Linked DNA regions of Homo sapiens: region 2 is linked to region 1. Evidence: fine-mapped expression QTL. Tissue or cell type: whole blood. Region 1 holds a variant in brackets; the other region holds the start of a gene. All regions are shown on one strand. Distances are from middle to middle.

What was found. PIP is the estimated chance that this variant, and not a neighbour inherited with it, causes the effect.
Region 2: it holds the start of SH3RF3, and the variant in region 1 is fine-mapped to the expression of SH3RF3 in whole blood (INTERVAL, PIP above 0.99).

What each region holds. Positions count from the first base shown.
Region 1 is chr2:109,243,464-109,251,643 of GRCh38, reverse strand. The region is part of intron 1 of SH3RF3 (SH3 domain containing ring finger 3); the gene reads right to left. It also overlaps a transcript of RANBP2 not described here and the pseudogene SNRPGP9. Among named protein-coding and RNA genes, the nearest start is that of MIR4266, 66 kb to the left of the region's middle. The variant A/G (reference allele first, on the strand shown) is at 3,504.
Region 2 is chr2:109,124,389-109,132,568 of GRCh38, reverse strand. It overlaps SH3RF3 (SH3 domain containing ring finger 3), which reads right to left and starts at 3,364. Exons shown (of 10, transcript NM_001099289.3): 1 at 2,456-3,364. The coding sequence starts at 3,028. It overlaps SH3RF3-AS1 (SH3RF3 antisense RNA 1), which reads left to right and starts at 2,450. Exons shown (of 1, transcript NR_029193.1): 1 at 2,450-5,242. It also overlaps a transcript of RANBP2 not described here. RefSeq lists silencers at 3,349-3,548, 3,579-3,628, 3,639-3,708, 4,089-4,148.

The sequences.
Region 1 (8,180 bases):
TCGTTCCAAGGCTTCTAACATGATGATACTATTTCCTATTACCACCATTCCAATATTGTTCTGTTGCCCACCAGTCGCCATCTCCACACATTCATCTATCACAAGATTCATAAAGGGACCAAATGACCACAATATTCCTTGGACATGTCTGCCACCATTTAATTTCAATGACAACTTCTTGTCCATAGATTTTTTCAACTCGGGAGGGTGAGCTTTGCTCATGGTGTCTACTCCATGCACTCACAGATGCCTTGGAAAGGAATGCACAGACTCCCTCATGCTCCCGCGGCAGGCCGGGTGTCTTGCATCTCTCTAATTCTTTGTTAAAGATAATTTGGGCCGGGCATGGTGGCTCACGCCTGTAATTAATCCCAGCACTTTGGGAGGCTGAGGCGGGTGGATAACCCAAGGTAAGGAGTTCGAGACCAGCCTGGCCAACATGGTGAAACCCCATCTCTACTAAAAATAAAAAAATTAGCCAGGCATGGTGGCAGATGCCTGTAATCCCAGCTACTGTGGGAGGCTGAGGCAGGGGAATCACTTGAACCTAGGAGGCAGAGGTTGCCATGAGCCGAGATCATGCCACTGCACTCCAGCCTGGGCGACAGAGTGAGACTCAATCTCAAAAAAAATAAATAAATAAAAATATTAATAATTTGAAAAAAAAAGCTATACAGAATGCAATGTATATGCCTAAACAACGTTAATTTAGAAATTTAAAAAGATAATTTTTAAAATGGTTTCACTTTTTTGGATTTACTCCAGGTAAGTGATTTGATTTTTTGTTCTACCTAAACAGCACTGGATATAATTATTTCCCAGGGCTTCAAAATTCTGAAAATCCTAATTCCCTATTGAAGCACTTTTTTTTTCTAAAATAGCTAATTACTAAATTATAACAAACATAGAAGTTGAATTTGGCAAGTTATGGTAGTTTGCTTCTAGGTCCTCCTTTGATATAAATATGTTTTCCATATTTGCCTCATACTCAATAGTTTTCTAAATTTAGCCCAGGAAACATACCACTATTATTATTATTATTACTGTTATTATTTTGTTAAAGGTTTTTCTGTATTTATCATGTTTTGAAAAAGAAAAACGGTCAAATTCTAGATCCTTTAAAATCCAGTCCATTATTATTCCATTTATTTTAATAATAATAATAAATATTTAAACCTGGTAAGTTTTCCGAGTATATCAAAATTTATTATGATGATTGTTTCATGAAGAAACGAAGTTGTATATAATACAAGCTTACATTGCTAAGCTCAGAAGTGAATTCAGAGCTGATGGAGACTGTTAGCTTGTGCATGTTTAGAAACCCCCACGTTGGCTCTGTCCAACCAGCAATGGGCGAGATGTCTTCCCCAGGGCTTCCAAAGTTCTAAACATTCTCGTAACTTGGTTCAGTTGCCTTTCCCTAAATACAAATTCCTGAATTATATCAAAACCTTAGGGAACATTCCTAGGAGTGGAGAAAAACCTTAAAGACAGAGAAAAACCTTAAGGACAGATAAAAACAAGAATTCTAATTAGACAAAAAAAAAAAAAAAGGAACACCTACTGTTTTGCCCTCAAAAACACTGATGTCAGTCATGGTAAAAATAACAAGTTTTCATTTATATTTCACTGACTTAAAATTTGGTAGAGATCTGGTGCAGGCCGGGCGCGGTGGCTCACGCCTGTAATCCCAGCACTTTGGGAGGCCAAGGCAGGTGGATCATGAGGTCAGGAGATCGAGACCATCCTGGCTAACACAGTGAAACCCCGTCTCTACTAAAAAATAAAAAAATTAAAAAATAAATAAATAAAACAAAAAATTAGCCGGGCGCGGTGGCGGGCGCCTGTAGTCCCAGCTACTCAGGAGGCTGAGGCAGGAGAATGGCGTGAACCTGGAAGGCGGAGCTTGCGGAGCTTGCAGTGAGCTGAGATCGCACCACTGTACTCCAGCCTTGATGACACAGCAAGACTCTGTCAAGAAAGAAAGAAAGAAAGAGAGAAACAGAGAAAGAGAGAGAGAAAGAAAGAGAAAGAAAGAAAGAAAAAGAAAGAAAGGAAAGGAAGGAAGGAAGGAAGGAAGGAAGGAAGGAAGGAAGGAAGGAAGGAAGGAAAGAAAGAAAGAAAAAGAAAGAATGAAAGAAAGAAAGAAAGAAAGAAAGAAAGAAAGAAAGAAAGAGAAAGAGAGAAAGAGAGAGAGATCTGGTGCAGGAGGGAAGGGTTCCTTGCTCAACAATTCTCCAGATCCTCTGAGCTTTGGTTTCCTCATGTAGTCATGGCAATAATACCAACTTGCTCGGGGATTTTTTGCAAAGATTATGTGTTAGGTTTCCTTCCCTCCATCTTAAGAATCACTGCTCAGGCCCTCTTCTTTTACCAAATAACTTTTCAACAGAAACCTGAAGAAAGAACAGGGTAGGAGTCGGGGGGGAGTTGCTTAGCTGAAGTTAACGAGTGTAGTTCTTGGCCAGGTGTGGTGGCCCACACCTGTAATCAATCCTTTTTTGAGAGGCCAAGACAGGGAAATTGCTTGAAGCCAGGAGTTTAAGACCAGCCTAGGCAACATAGTGAGCTGTGGTCTCTACACAAAATTACAAATTAGCTGGGCATGGTGGCATGCACCTATAGTCCCAGCTACTCAGGAGGCTGAGGTGGGAGGATCACTTAGGCCCAGGAGTTGGAGGCTGCATCCCAGCCTGGGTGACAGAGCAAGACAGGACAGGACAGGACAGGACAGGACAGGACAGGACAGGACAGGAAAGGACAGGAAAGGAAAGGAAAAAGGAAAGGAAAAAGGAAAACGAAAAGGAGAAAAGAGAGAAAGAGAGAAAACGAAAGAGAAAGAGAGACAGAAAGAGAAAGACAGAAAGAAGAGAAAGAGAGAGAGAGAGAAGGAAGGAAAGAAGGAAAGGAAGAAAGAAAAGAAGGAGGCAAGGAAAGAAGGAAAGGAAAGAAATGCAGTACTTCATTTTTCTCTTCACTCACCAAGTGTACTAATTATTTGCTTGCACTTGAATATTCAAACCTATTTAATATACATGTTTGGTCAATTAATGTCTCAAGGTTTCTGTCTGCATTGCAATTGTCTTAGACTGGAATTAACTACAGGGTAGTAACATCCATTTAATTCCACTTGGAAAATGCCACTTGCAGAGCAGGCCTGCATAAATGACTTTGATGCAGTGAGAAAATGGAGCTTACCTAATAAAAACACTTCTTAATTATCCTACCAAAAGGAAAAAAATGAGAGCGATAACACATAATCATGAGAGGCAAAACCATAAAACTTTCAGGAAACAATAAGAAGAATATCTGTATGGCTTCAAGGGTGGGGAAGATTTTTAAAACAATAGCCAAAATGAGCACATCAGAAAAGAAAAAGATTGAGAGAAGTGACCTTGTTTATTAAAAGTAAGAACTCCTATTCATCTGAATCAACATATATAGCAATGAAAGAATTAATATCCAGAATATATTTTAAAAACTCCTCCTAATATAAAAGATCA[A/G]CAATCAAAAGAAAACAGGCAGTGGACTTTGTGGTGGATTGTAGAGTAACAGCCTCCAATTGATTCATGTTCCCTGGATCCAGGCCCTTGGAATATTCCATCCAAGGTTGCCTCTAGATTTGGCAGCCCTGTGACTTCCTTTGGCTAATGAGACAACAACAATTATGATGCAGATGGAGGTTTAAAAAGCGCTTGCACGTTGGAGTCTGCCTTTTCTTGTTGCTTACTGGGACCTTCAGTCCACCACATGAAGACGCCCAGGCTAGCCTTTGGGGGATATAAGAGACCATGTGGAGAGGAACCCAGGCCATCCTTGCTGCCCCAGTAACCCCAGCCAACACACACAACAGTGAGTTAAATAAAAAGGTATTATTTTAAGCCTCTAAGTTTTGGGTTTCTGTTATACAGCAAATCCTAACTGATACAGGGAAAAACATATAGAAGATGTTCTCCTTCACTGGCAATCAGAAACTAACAAAGGAAGAGCTAACGCAGCCAGTCCGTCAACTGTGAGGTGTTAAGGACACTCACACCTTTGTTTACAAAGAGAAGTCGCCAAGTGTAACCAGGCAAGAGTTTCTGCACAGGAAGAGCACAGCAGGCTGGACTGACACGTGACCACCCATGCCTGCCTTAAGGTGGGAAGAATAATGGTTTTGCACAAAAACTTCCAGGAAGTGTCCTCAGAGGAACGGTCAGGAGCCGTGACGTTCAGGGATCATCTGGGAAGCTCAGCTGGTCTTACACAAGTGTGCTAGGTTACTTAGGAAGTAAACTGATCTAGAAACTAACGAAGTTCAGGGAGGGGCTGCAGAGATTTGGATAAAGGGCTCAAGAAAGCTCTTGAAAGCCATCCTTGGTGTGTCACCGATTCCAGGACATTAAGGACTCACTGCAGCACATAATCTGTGGGCATCTGTGTGGGGTGTGACTTCATTCTGTTCTCCCTTATCTCATAGCTTCCTTGTCCTCTGCAAACCCAAACTCCATGTTTCATGTCTCTGGATAATATCCATACACCCATGGGATTACAATTCCCCAAACAGGGGAAAATGAAAAATTAAAATGGTTTTAGAGTTGAATGTAGTTGTGACTACAGGAAAGATGTCACATCATCTCAAAAAGTGAGGGTCCGACCAGAAAGAGACTAACCAGCATCCTCCACCATGAGTCCTCCTCATGCTCTGGGAACGCCTCCTCAAGGCTGAGCTGCAGCATTGGCCTGGAGCCCTGAGTCAGAGGGGTCCTAGCATCAAACCTGTGCCACCGAATGGAAGGAAGACACCCCCAGCATCGCTGTCACAACAGAAGCACGTGGATGAGCTAGGGCATCCGACTGCAGTTCAACTCAGAGCAAGCGAGGCTCTCCAGGCTCAGGTATCATCTCCACCCCGGCATCCCCACTGCCTCCCAGTCCATCTGAGCAGAGACATCCAGCCTTAGGACGAGCCAGGGCAATTCCACCAGGCACGTTAAGTCCACAGGTCAAATAAGACACGTGCAGGGAGATACACTGGCTGTGTGTGGAAAGGAAGGCTGGAGGGTACTACAGTGGTGAAACATCTACACTCTCCAGCCATCCTGTTAGGCATGATATTCCTTGGAGTATGCAATGGACTGAATGTATGTGTCATCCTAAAAGTCATATGTTAAATCCTAACCTCCAAGGTAATGCTATTAGGAGCTGAGGCCTTTGGGGAGGTGACCGGATCGTGAGGGTGGAGCCCTCATGAATGGGATTAGTGTCTTACTAAAGAGGCCTCGGAGAGTTGCCTTGCCCCCTCTACCATGGGAGGACACAGTGAGAAGGCACCGTCTGTGAACCTGGAGGCCAGTCTTTACCAGACATCGAATCTGCCAGTGCCTTGATCTTGGACGACCAGCGTCTAGAACTGTGGGAAATAAATTGCTGCCGCTTTTAAACCACTGCGTTTACGGTATTTTGTTACAGCAGCTTGAAAAGCCTAAGGCAGCCTCTGTCAACCTCACAACCACCCTGCAAAGCAGGTATCCTCCCACTTCACAAATGAAGAAACAGAAGCTAAGTAACTTGCCCAATGTTATCACAGTCCTAGGTGTAAAATTGAAGTATGAATCCAGGTGTCTTGATTTCAAAAATCCATGCTCTTTTTTTGTTTCACCACACTGGTTTTTTGTGAATAAGCCAGCTTAGAGACTTTCATTATAGCAGTAATTTTTTTTTGTTCCCTCAAAGGATTTCCTGAGACCAGTAAATGATGCCCGGGATTGTGTTAAGTACTCTAGATTTCAAGTGTTAAGTACTCTAGATTCAATCTCTCATGATGGATTTACAAACTCCATAAAGATCTGAGGGTCCCCCTGAGGCAACTTTAACCAGAAAATCTGAAGGTCCAGGAATTATAGCAAAAATGATGACTTAGAATGAATTTCCTGAATTTGTTAAGATATTTATTGTGGCCAATTTCAGAGAGAAATCTTAACAAATATGGTCTCAGTTCAAGGGATAAGAAGCAAATATGAAAACTCGTAAAGTTATTTTATATATAGACTTAAATTTGTCTCCTCAAAGCCCAAGTTCCTATAATAACATGTCAGGCTAGAGGTGCAGTTTGTCCAATAAAAATAAAAACTTAATTTACTTTTTATTTCTAGTTGACTCTTAGAAAGGAAAATAATCAACTCACATAGGAAGCACTAATGTGCAAATTATTTTGCCAGACTCTGAGGGTCTGAATATCCAGACAAAAACCACAAAGAAACAAAAATTACATGAAAGCACCAAGAGGGAATTCCAGTTACAGCAGAGGTTGACACTGTCCCCAAGTTGGGGACAGAGGGAATGACCACAGGCATGGGCCTCACCTTGACCATGGCAGCAGACAGCTCTACTCCTGTCTCTGTGGTCTGAAAACCTCAGAGCAGCCAGTAAGATGACCCTAGAGAGACAGGAGCTATACATTCACCAGGAGCACAGAAGCCACATGGCAAGAACCCAAGTGGGCTCCAGCAGGGGAGCTTCCCGTGAGATGGTGGAGGGGCTCTCATTCTATCTGCTGAGAACTGGGCACACTCTGCTCAGCAATGGGTCCCTCAGCACAAGGCTGCCCAGACAACAGGACTAAACACTTAAAGGGGACGCCATCCAACAACAAAGACAGCAAGAACTGTACTCACAGTTCTCCATAGAGATACTGGCACCTGATCAAGTCTCAAACCCAAGGGCAAGCTCAGGGCCAGCCAACTTTGTCTTGCTTCTAACTTGTGTCCACACCCTGCAGAATATGACGATGGCACAGGCTGCAGTGGGAAAGGTGTGTAAAACCTCCCCTGTTCTCAGGCCACCCCTCCAAGGCCAGCAGCAGGAGGGGCACCTGCCCTGGGCCACAGGCTGCCTCAAGGGCCCGGGCATTGAGGTTCTGAGTGACTTTGACTCCTGTCTCTAGAGGCTGTGATTCTCAGTGCTGCAGATAATACCATCTCCATATTTCCTCCCTGTGTTTGCCTAACAGAAACTCCGATATCTTCTCCTGCTAACTGGCATTCTTGGGTTTTCCTCATCCTGCCAGCTTATTCCTATAGCAACTATTAGGTGGAACAGCTCTCATCTTAAAAACAGTTCCAAACAGCTTAGGGCCCTATAAATTTAATTTTCAATCTCACATTTGGCATTTGTTTGGGGGTAGTTCCAACACATCAGGAAGACAGAATTGCATTCATGGGCAAAAATCAGTACTGATGGTTTTGCCTAAAGACTGAATATAGTATTTACTTTCATAATACCACCTGAGGTTTATATATTAGGACAATTCTGCTCTGTGTCACTTTTCTCACCTGCTCCTAGATGCAAAATGTGCACATTTGCCTGAAGAAGCTGTTGCATAATGCTTTGTTGTACCTCCTGTGTGCTTCTTAAATGTTTTATGCCCCCGTCATGTTTTATCTCCAGCTCGGATTAGAATCCATTGTTTTGCAGTCCATAAATAGTACATCCTTCAAACAGTACAAAAAAAATAGCTACAGAGGATTTGCTGAATTGTAAGTTCAAGGAAAACTATTCTTTCTATCAGGATTCTAGGCAATCTAGGACCAACAGAGAAAATACCCTCGCTACAATTACCCATCTCACTGTTTAATGATCACTGCTGATGGCAAAAACTTCACCTATGAGCACATGAGCTGGGCAGGGCAAACAGAACCACCAAGTGCCCATGGCTGCATGTCGGTGGCATGAGCTCTTCTGGTGTCTAAGCCTCTCTCACTCACTACTCACTCATCTATTTACTCACTCAAGATCTTTCTAAAGCAAACCAGATCACGTATTGTCCTGATTACAGCCTTTCAATGGCTTCCCAACGCACAGAGAACATGTCCCAAACTCCTTTCCTGGATTGCAAAACCACTCGGGCCACCCCGAGGTTCTCTGAAAACACCATGCTCAATCTCTCCTTAGTCTCCCTGTACCAGGCGATTGTCCCCGACCTTTGCCTCCCTGGCCCCTTCTCACCACTCATATCTTCAGCTCTCAGTTTAGACACCATCTCTTTAAAAATGTTCCCCAGCCACCAAATATAAAAGTCATTCTCTGTCATTCTCCATTATAGGTTCCCATGGTGTTAATTACCTGTATGTCACCTGCCCCATCTGACTTTTTTCATGAGCATTTCCTGTTCATTGGCCTCCCTGGCTGGAATGCAC
Region 2 (8,180 bases), 120 kb after region 1:
CACTGGGTATATTATTTCCAGGGGCAGCATCGTTAACTGACTCCACAAAAGCGCTTTATCTCAAATGGCTCAGGTGAGAGCAGAGCTGAGAGGTTCTGCTAACCACGTCAGGGGACTCCAAGTACTCTGGTGATCACCAAAACCGATGAAAAACAACAGGTAAAGAGTTCAGGAAAACACTGTTTTGTGTCCTGCCAGTAAAACCAAACAGAAATTAAAACTTTTTTTTAAATAAAGCTGTCAAAATATTGAACCGTAACAAAATTAATAAAGTAAACAAGCTATGCCAATACTTACCTATATACCTAAAAAGTATACATACCCTAATTGGCCCAAAAGAAGATGTAAGGAGCTTCTAATTGGAAAATGATGGGACTGTAATATTTATGGTTACCTGCTATCATGGCATATTAGTTAAATAAGTGCCCCTCTATTAAACAACATGCAACAACATCCAGCATTCAACTTTCCTGGCAGGAGTCAAGCAATTCCAATGGACAGTAAAGTACCAAAAGTAATTTTCAGCCGAAATCTTTGTCAACCAACTGTATAGGGTTGCTCAATGCCTGATATGCTATTACAATCCTTCCCACTCCCGAAGCATGTGCTGGACCTAATGCTATTATCCCAGCATGGTAGTATAGTGCTAGTGTAGTGTGAATACACCATGCGGGACTCCTGCTTATTAGTTAAATAAGTGCTCGTCTATTAAACAACATCCAGAAACATCCCAAAAACACAAAAAGTCATGAACATGACTATGCACCCATAAAGAAAGTCAACCAAGGGTCTCAACATATGGTGAGTAAAACATCAATTTCCTGCTAATACTAAATGTCACTACTAAAAAGTTCCAAGCTTCAACCCCTTTGACAAGTTCTAAAAGGTACTACAAATGCCACAGAATTCCCGGAGTGGCATCAAAGCTTCAGCCTGTCACATGTCAGAGGTTACCTCCTAACCTCCTGGTCAAACACAAAGTCCCCCAAGATAAACTGAGAGGACATCTGTAAACAGATGGTCATCAGAATGTCCCAGCGTTTTACTAGAAGCGGGGCTCCGAATATCACATAATTTATCAGAACAGAAGAAGGTAACCCACTTATTCTGCAAATAAAGATATTTAATTATAAATACCTTACATCAAAAACAGCAAGGCCAGGAAGGAAAAGTTTGAAAATTTCTAACGCAAGCATTTAGCTGGATTTAATCACAATTAAAACCAAAGAAAAAAATTCCCCTTCAGCAGTGCCCCCCAAGTGACCCCCAGTGACTATCCTTGACTGTCCCCATTCTTCCTGATCCATAGAAAAAAAAACCCATTGCAGCAAAGTATGGCATTTAACTCAAGCTCAACATCCAAGGGTTTAAGTTCCTAACCTTAACCTTAGAGATTTGCAGTACTGCCTAATCCAGGTGCTAGAATGTTCCCAGCATTTCAGGATTACACATAGTGGAAGGACTAGGCATCACCAACTCCTTAAATGGTCAAAAGTAGAGGAATAAAGTTGTGTTTCTAAAGCAAATGATTATTCCAATAGATAATGTATTTTTTTTAACATTTAAGTGCTTTTCTCCATTTAAAGAAATTAACAAAACCCGGGTCCTTTCTTTTCTCATTTAAACCAGCATCCCATGCCCTCTCTCCTGGTAACTGTTCACAAGGTGGCAAGGGTGTGTAATAAGAAGCTGTAAGAAGCTTTTAAAACCAAATCATTGAAGCCATCCAGAGAAGATCTTTCGTCTAAAACAGAAGCAGCGAAGGCCCTAAAATGCGGCTGTACCAAAAATAATAATAATAAATATAAATGACCCCCGTGGGAATGCAACCCTGCCTGGGAGCCCAGGAGAAGACCTTGGCTTCTGGTTAGACACTGCCAAGTCCAAAAGGGCTGGGTCAAAAGGCTCCTGGGGCCTCCAGATTAACTCCTTCCAGACTACTAGAAGCATTCCTCCAAACCCCAGTCCCACTCTGCCTTCTGCCCTCCCCTCCTTAGCCACACCGCAGGCAGGAGGCCCGCGGGCTTCCCAGAGCAGCCATCAGAGCCCTGTCAGAAACGTTAAGGGCTAACTTTTCTCTAGGCAGGCCCAGGGTGTGCAGAGGGAGTGTCTGGGGACCCAGAGGAAGAAGGTCCCCGTTTCTAGGGAGACGCAAGGGCGATGCTAAGTTTAAGAGGCAGGGTAACAAGTCCGGCCAAGGAATCGGGGGTGAGCGACGGGACAGGAAGGCGTGCCCACTCCACAGGAGGATGGGACACACGTGAACAAGCGGCGAGCTGCCCAGGGGCCGGATGCCGCCACCAAGCAAGCGAAGTTGGAGGAAGAGCAACAGCGGAGTGGGCCAACGCAGGACCACCCGTGGTCTCCTCCGCACCTCATCACTGCCCCCCACGCCCAAGCACCCACCCACACACTCCCACGTGCCGTGGCCACTTCCGCCGAGACAGATACTCACCTTTGCCGCCGGCGCGGTCCTGCTGGTCGCCAGCTCCCGCAGACTGCCGGCGGTGCTGCCCGCGGCCGCGGAGAGGAAAACCGGGGAACCCGGGGTGCTGCCTGCCGCGCCGCCCCCGCCGCCCGCGAGCGTGGGGGCCGCACTCTGGCCTGGGATGGGACGCGCGGGCGGGCTGCCGCCGGGGCTGGTGCCCGCGCGGGGCCGCTGACGGATGCCGTCCAGCAGTCGCACCAGCAAGATGTTGGCGGGCAGTTCGTCCACGCCGCAGCCCACCAGGATGCGGCACTCGGGGCAGCGCAGCTCGTGGCGCGAGCACACGATGCTCTCCAGGCAGCGGCGGCAGAAAGTGTGTTGGCATGGCAGCACCTTGGCCGTGGTGTCCAGGCGCTCCAGACACACGGAGCACTCCAGCAGGTCCAGCAGCGACGACTCGTCCATGTCCTCGCCCGCCCCCGCGGCGGTGGCCGCCGCCCGACGCCGCCGTCGCTCGCCTGGCCTGTCCTCGTCGCCCTCGCTCTGCGCAGCAGCGGCGGCCGCCTTGGATGCGCACAGCCAGGACGCTCCGAGCAGCATGGGGGAGGCGCCCGCAGCGGTCTCGCGCGGCTGCCTAGGTCCCGGGGCCGGCGTGGAGCCCGCCACCGGCAGCCAGCATCAGGACTGGGGAGCCGGGCTCCGCCGTGACTTTCTTCACCCCGGCTGGTGGCCCGATGCTAGGGCTGTGGCGGTGCGAAGTGGCTCACCGACCGGCCTGCGTGGCGGGGACCGGCCTGCGTGGCGGGGACCGGCCAGCCGAGCCCGCCCAGTCCTGAGCGCAGCGCCTGCGGCTGCGGGCTACACCTGTCCCGCCGCAAGTCCGCCCCGCGCGGGGGACCGGGGGTGCTGCCGGGCACGAAGCTCAACGGGTTCTGTGCTGCAAGCGGCGGCTCGCGCCTGGGAGACCAGCGGCAGGAAGTGCGGGCAGCGGCCGGCCAGGTCCCCGGGGAGGCCGGGGCGCGGCGTGCACGCTCCTCCGCGCAGCTGGCGAGCCGCACCGCCCCCGCGGCACCTCCATGCGCCCCTGGCCTGCTCGCTAGTCGCTGTCCTCCAGAGGATTCAGCAGGACCGTTCCTCTTCCTCGGCCGCGAGCACGTGCGCGGGGGTGCGCGCGGAGGTCACGGTCACTGCGGGGCTCAGGGAAGGAGGCGCCGTGCCTGCAGGACTTCCCTTCGCTTGGGCGCAAGCCGGCGATTAGCCTGGTCCCCTAGGACATCTCCAGGGCTCCGGGGAACCTCTCCTGCGCAGGCTTGGCCCTGCCTCCTCCAAGCGTCCGAGTCTTTTTCGGCTTTTCGTGAGCCTCAGAGAGGGACGTTTCCTGCCAACGCTGCTGCGAAGGAAAGTTTGGGCGGCGTTATCCCGACTGCCTTCCTCGCCAGCGCCGGCGAGCAGCTTGGGGACACAGCCGACGCCCGGGCATCCTCCCCGACGACCCCCCGGAGCGCTCCCAGTTCAGACTCCTTTCCGAGAAGCGCGCAGAAGTGACAGCCCCGGAGCTTCGTTCCGGTGTAGGTGTGGGGATGCGCCGCAAGGCAGGAGGGGAAGGCGCTCCAGTTGAAGGGGGCACCCCGGGGCCCGCGCCGACTCCTCCCGGCGCAGCCTTGGCTCGCCGGAGTCGCGGGTCGGAGGCTGGCGCCGCTGCCCGCCGACCAGCACCCTGGCGCCAGGCGCCCGGCTCCACGCCGCACCCTTGGCGACGCTGTGCGAGGGGCTCTAGCGCCCGCCGCGGCGCAGTCTCGTGAACCCCCGCTCCAATTTTTTCCTACGGAGGCGCAGAGGAGGGTGAATTCGCGCTCTCCTTCCCGACGCCCCGGCTTCTGGGAGCGTCAGAGCAACGGAAGTACGTACAGGAGGACCGAGAGCAGCAGGGAAGTTTGGCGGTGGGCTGGGGTCGGCGGCGAAGATTCCCTGCCGTGCGCTGCCCCCTCGTGGCCGCTTTGCGTTCCCGTCGGGAAGGGCTGGGTTCCAGTCCAGGGCCCAGCACAAACCAGGATTGGTTGGACGCTGCACAGCGAGTTCAGTCAGGGCTAACATCAGAAGAGTCGTGGGGGGCCTGCCTATCGGCCAGCCTGTCCTTGTGGTTTGTGAAGTTGTATGATCTTTCTGTTATTATTAAGGAAAAAAGTAGTATTTGTTGAGGCTAAAAGGCCAAGAGCGTGCTATATATTATTTAATCCTCTAAACAGCTCTGCCAGATAATTATTTTATTTATTTATATTTACTTCCATAGCTTTAGACAGGATCTCGTTCTGTCAGGCAGGCTAGAGCGCGGGGTGCTATCACGGCTCACTGCAGCCTCAAACTCTTGGGCTCAAGCCATCCTTTCACCTCAGCCTCCTGAATAGTTGAAACTACAGGTGCGCCACCACGCCTGGCTAAATTTTTAATTTAAATTTTTTGTAGCGACAGGGTCTCCTTATGTTGCCCAGGCTAGTCTCAAACTCCTGGGCTCAAGAGATCCTCCAACCTCATCTTCACAAAGTGCTGGGAGTACAGGCGCCAGCCACGGTGCCCAACCTGTGATAATTATTTTAAACTCATTTTACAAATGAGGAAAGTGATATTCATACTTGTAAAGCCATTGGGGCTGAATTTTCATTTTTGTATCCACAGAACTAACACATAAAGTTTACATGCCATTAGAATGTAAGCTCTCTGTAAGCTACAGATCTTTTCTACTGTAATATCCTTAGTGCCTAGGGCAGTGACTAGCATATAGTAGGTGTTCAATAAATATTTGTAGAATTAATGAAAGGATACGTCTCTCTTTCTCTCTCTCCCTCTCTCTCTCTCTCTCTCTCATCACCTACTGGTGATTTGAAGGCAGATCTTAGTATCTCAATTACACATATCCTGTGCTTATATCAGGATGCTAGTCCCTGGAAACTTTGCTTCTGATAGCAGCAGGTGGCTTTCTTAACCTGGATGTCTCTCAGCAATGTGGATTTCCATCTGTATGATTTACATCAGCGCCAACAACAGGGTGAGATGGAAAGCATCCCAGAGCTGCCTGGCTTCCCTTGAGGGCCGAAGGAAGGGCACACACCTCGCAGTGCATGGAAACATGTTCACATGAGCCACCTTTCACTCTTACCCTTGCTCAGGAACAAGGGGAATTTTTTAGAGCACCCAGGATGCTTGATCCAAGAGCAGATGGTAGACAAGGGGGAGCATAAAGAGGGGACCCATCAGGCACTGGAAGGGCTCACAGAGAGCAAGGACGGCCTGTGACGACATGCCCTGGTGCTTTTGGTTGCAAGCAACAGAAACCAACTCTAGGTAAATTTTAAAGGGAGCAGAATATACACTAATAATACGAGGCATCTCATAGGATCCCAGGCTAAGAGCTGAGCCAGATTAGCACAGATAGAGCCTGCAGTGTGTGTTGCTGTCCCTGTCTCTAGTTGATGACTCAACCCTTCACTTTCTTGCACCAGCTGCCTCTGCTTCCCAACCCACATGACAGAAAATGCGGTCAAATCTTCATGAGCCTTTCTTCCAACAACATCAGCCACTCCTGGAAGTTCTAAAACTCTATCACTAGTATGGACCAGTGGTCACTCTTTGGACCCGTGTGCCTTGGCCACAGGAGCAGGATCATCTGGAACCTGGCAGCACTCTCTGTAGTCACACAGGAGAAGTGAGAATTTCCAGAAGAATTGCCGTGCTGGGCAGTCAGAACCACAGATGCCCGTGCCAGAAGCTCACCGCCACATCTCTGCCCTCAGTACATCTTTATCTTGCACGACCCAAGACAGACAAGAGCAAGAGAGAGCCACTTAAGCCCACCTTTCCCAGCTTTCTTCTCTCTCCACTTTACCCCTTTTGCCCCTGCCATAACCAGCACCCACAGGACACACAGACTATGCACCCAGATGTCCACAGTGACTGGGCAGGGCATGAAATTAACGAAGCAGGGTGAACCCCAGGCAACAGGGCCTGGTGGGGACTGCAGTGAGCTTTGTCTGCACCCTTCAGAGGAAGTAGCTGCTGCCCAGCTCCAGCCCTGGGGGAATGACGACCAAATGTTGCTAGACCTTCATACCTTTCAAGAGAAGTTGGAAGTGCTGCTTTTTACATGACATCTCCTGATGTTCAACAGTTGGCAACCGATTTAGTTCTCAAAAACCACCATATTAGCCAAACAAAATAAATGTGTGGTCAAATTGGCCTACAGACCGCCAGTTTACAATTTCTGGTTGAAGTAGCCAAGTACACTGTGCTACAGCGTGAGGGAATTTGAGGGTGTGAACTAAATAGTTGAAGTATTACAAATACAGTCTTATGTTACTCGGTTAAATTTGCACATGTTCAATAAGCCAATTATATAAGTAAATAATTGAGAAGACCTGGCTTTACAGCCATTCCTAAAAAGATCTGGGGATTTCAGTTGACCACAAGCATTGTATGAGCCAACATGAGTCATCTATGTACTATGGCTGACTAGAGAAGTAACGAAATCTTCGGATGCCTTCATGAAAGTTAAGGTGGGGGGTGGTCAGGGTTTGGAAAAAAATAATCCCATTGTACCTCAGACTTGTGAGATTACTTCCAATTCTGGGTACCAAAAATTAATGACGATGTGGTAAGGGATCCGGAGGCCTCATCCATGAGTTTCAGTTGAAGGAACACAGGGCGTCTGTCCAAAGGAGAAAAAGCTCAGAGGAAACAGGACTGGACGGCTGTATGTCAGGTTTTTGGCGGCCCAAAATTTGAACTTCTTTTTAGATTTGGAAGACGCTCCACATGGTGATAGTCAGATAATTCTAACCCCCCCACCAACTCTGCTAAGGTGTGGGAATGTGACAGGCTCAGCTAGTCAAAAGCTGCCCCTCCCCCACCACACTCTGGGAGGTGGAGGGACGTGGGCAGAGGAAGCACCGAGAGTTCAGCAGCTATGGGGCAGGTGGCTGGCAGCAGCAGTGCCTGCAGCCTGTAGCATCTCAGAGTGGGGGCACGCCTTGGCAACAGGCCAACCCCAGACTTGACTGCCTGGTGAGCCTGGACTGTAGCCTCCACTGCTTTCCTGGCCTTGCTGTTGATCTTATGGGTTTTCCAATTTCATTTCCTTAGTTTCTTTTTCGTTAAATCAACCAGAGTCCATTTTTGTTGTTTTCAACTGGGAACCCAAATTGATGCACATTATTTACGATAAACAAAGCCCCTCTATATGAGACAATCATCACTGCACTGAACAGCAGCTATAGTTGCAGAACCCTGGAGGATCTCCGCCAGGCATTGCACCGTGTGGGGTTGAGGAAGGTTTAGTCAGGCAACCCTAAACGTACTCATTTGGGGCAAGAAGAAATCTGATACAGGGAGACACAAGATTGGAAGTTACTGGTTAAAAACTAACACAGGACGACAACAAAGCAAATCCACTTAATGCCACTGAACTGTACACTTTAAAATGGGTAAAATGGTCACTTTTATGTTATGTATTTTCTGACAATTTTTAAAACAAAACTGCAGCCGGGCATGATGGCTCATGCCTGTAATCCCAGCACTTTGGGAGGCCGAGACGGGCGGATCACCTGAGGTCAGGAGTTCGACACCAGCCTGGCCAACATAGTGAAACCCTGTCTTTACTAAAAATAAAACAAATTAGCCCAGGCACGGTGGCTCACGCCTGTAATCCCAGAACTTTGGGAGGCCGAGGCGGGCAGATCACCTGAGGTCAGCAGTTCGAGAC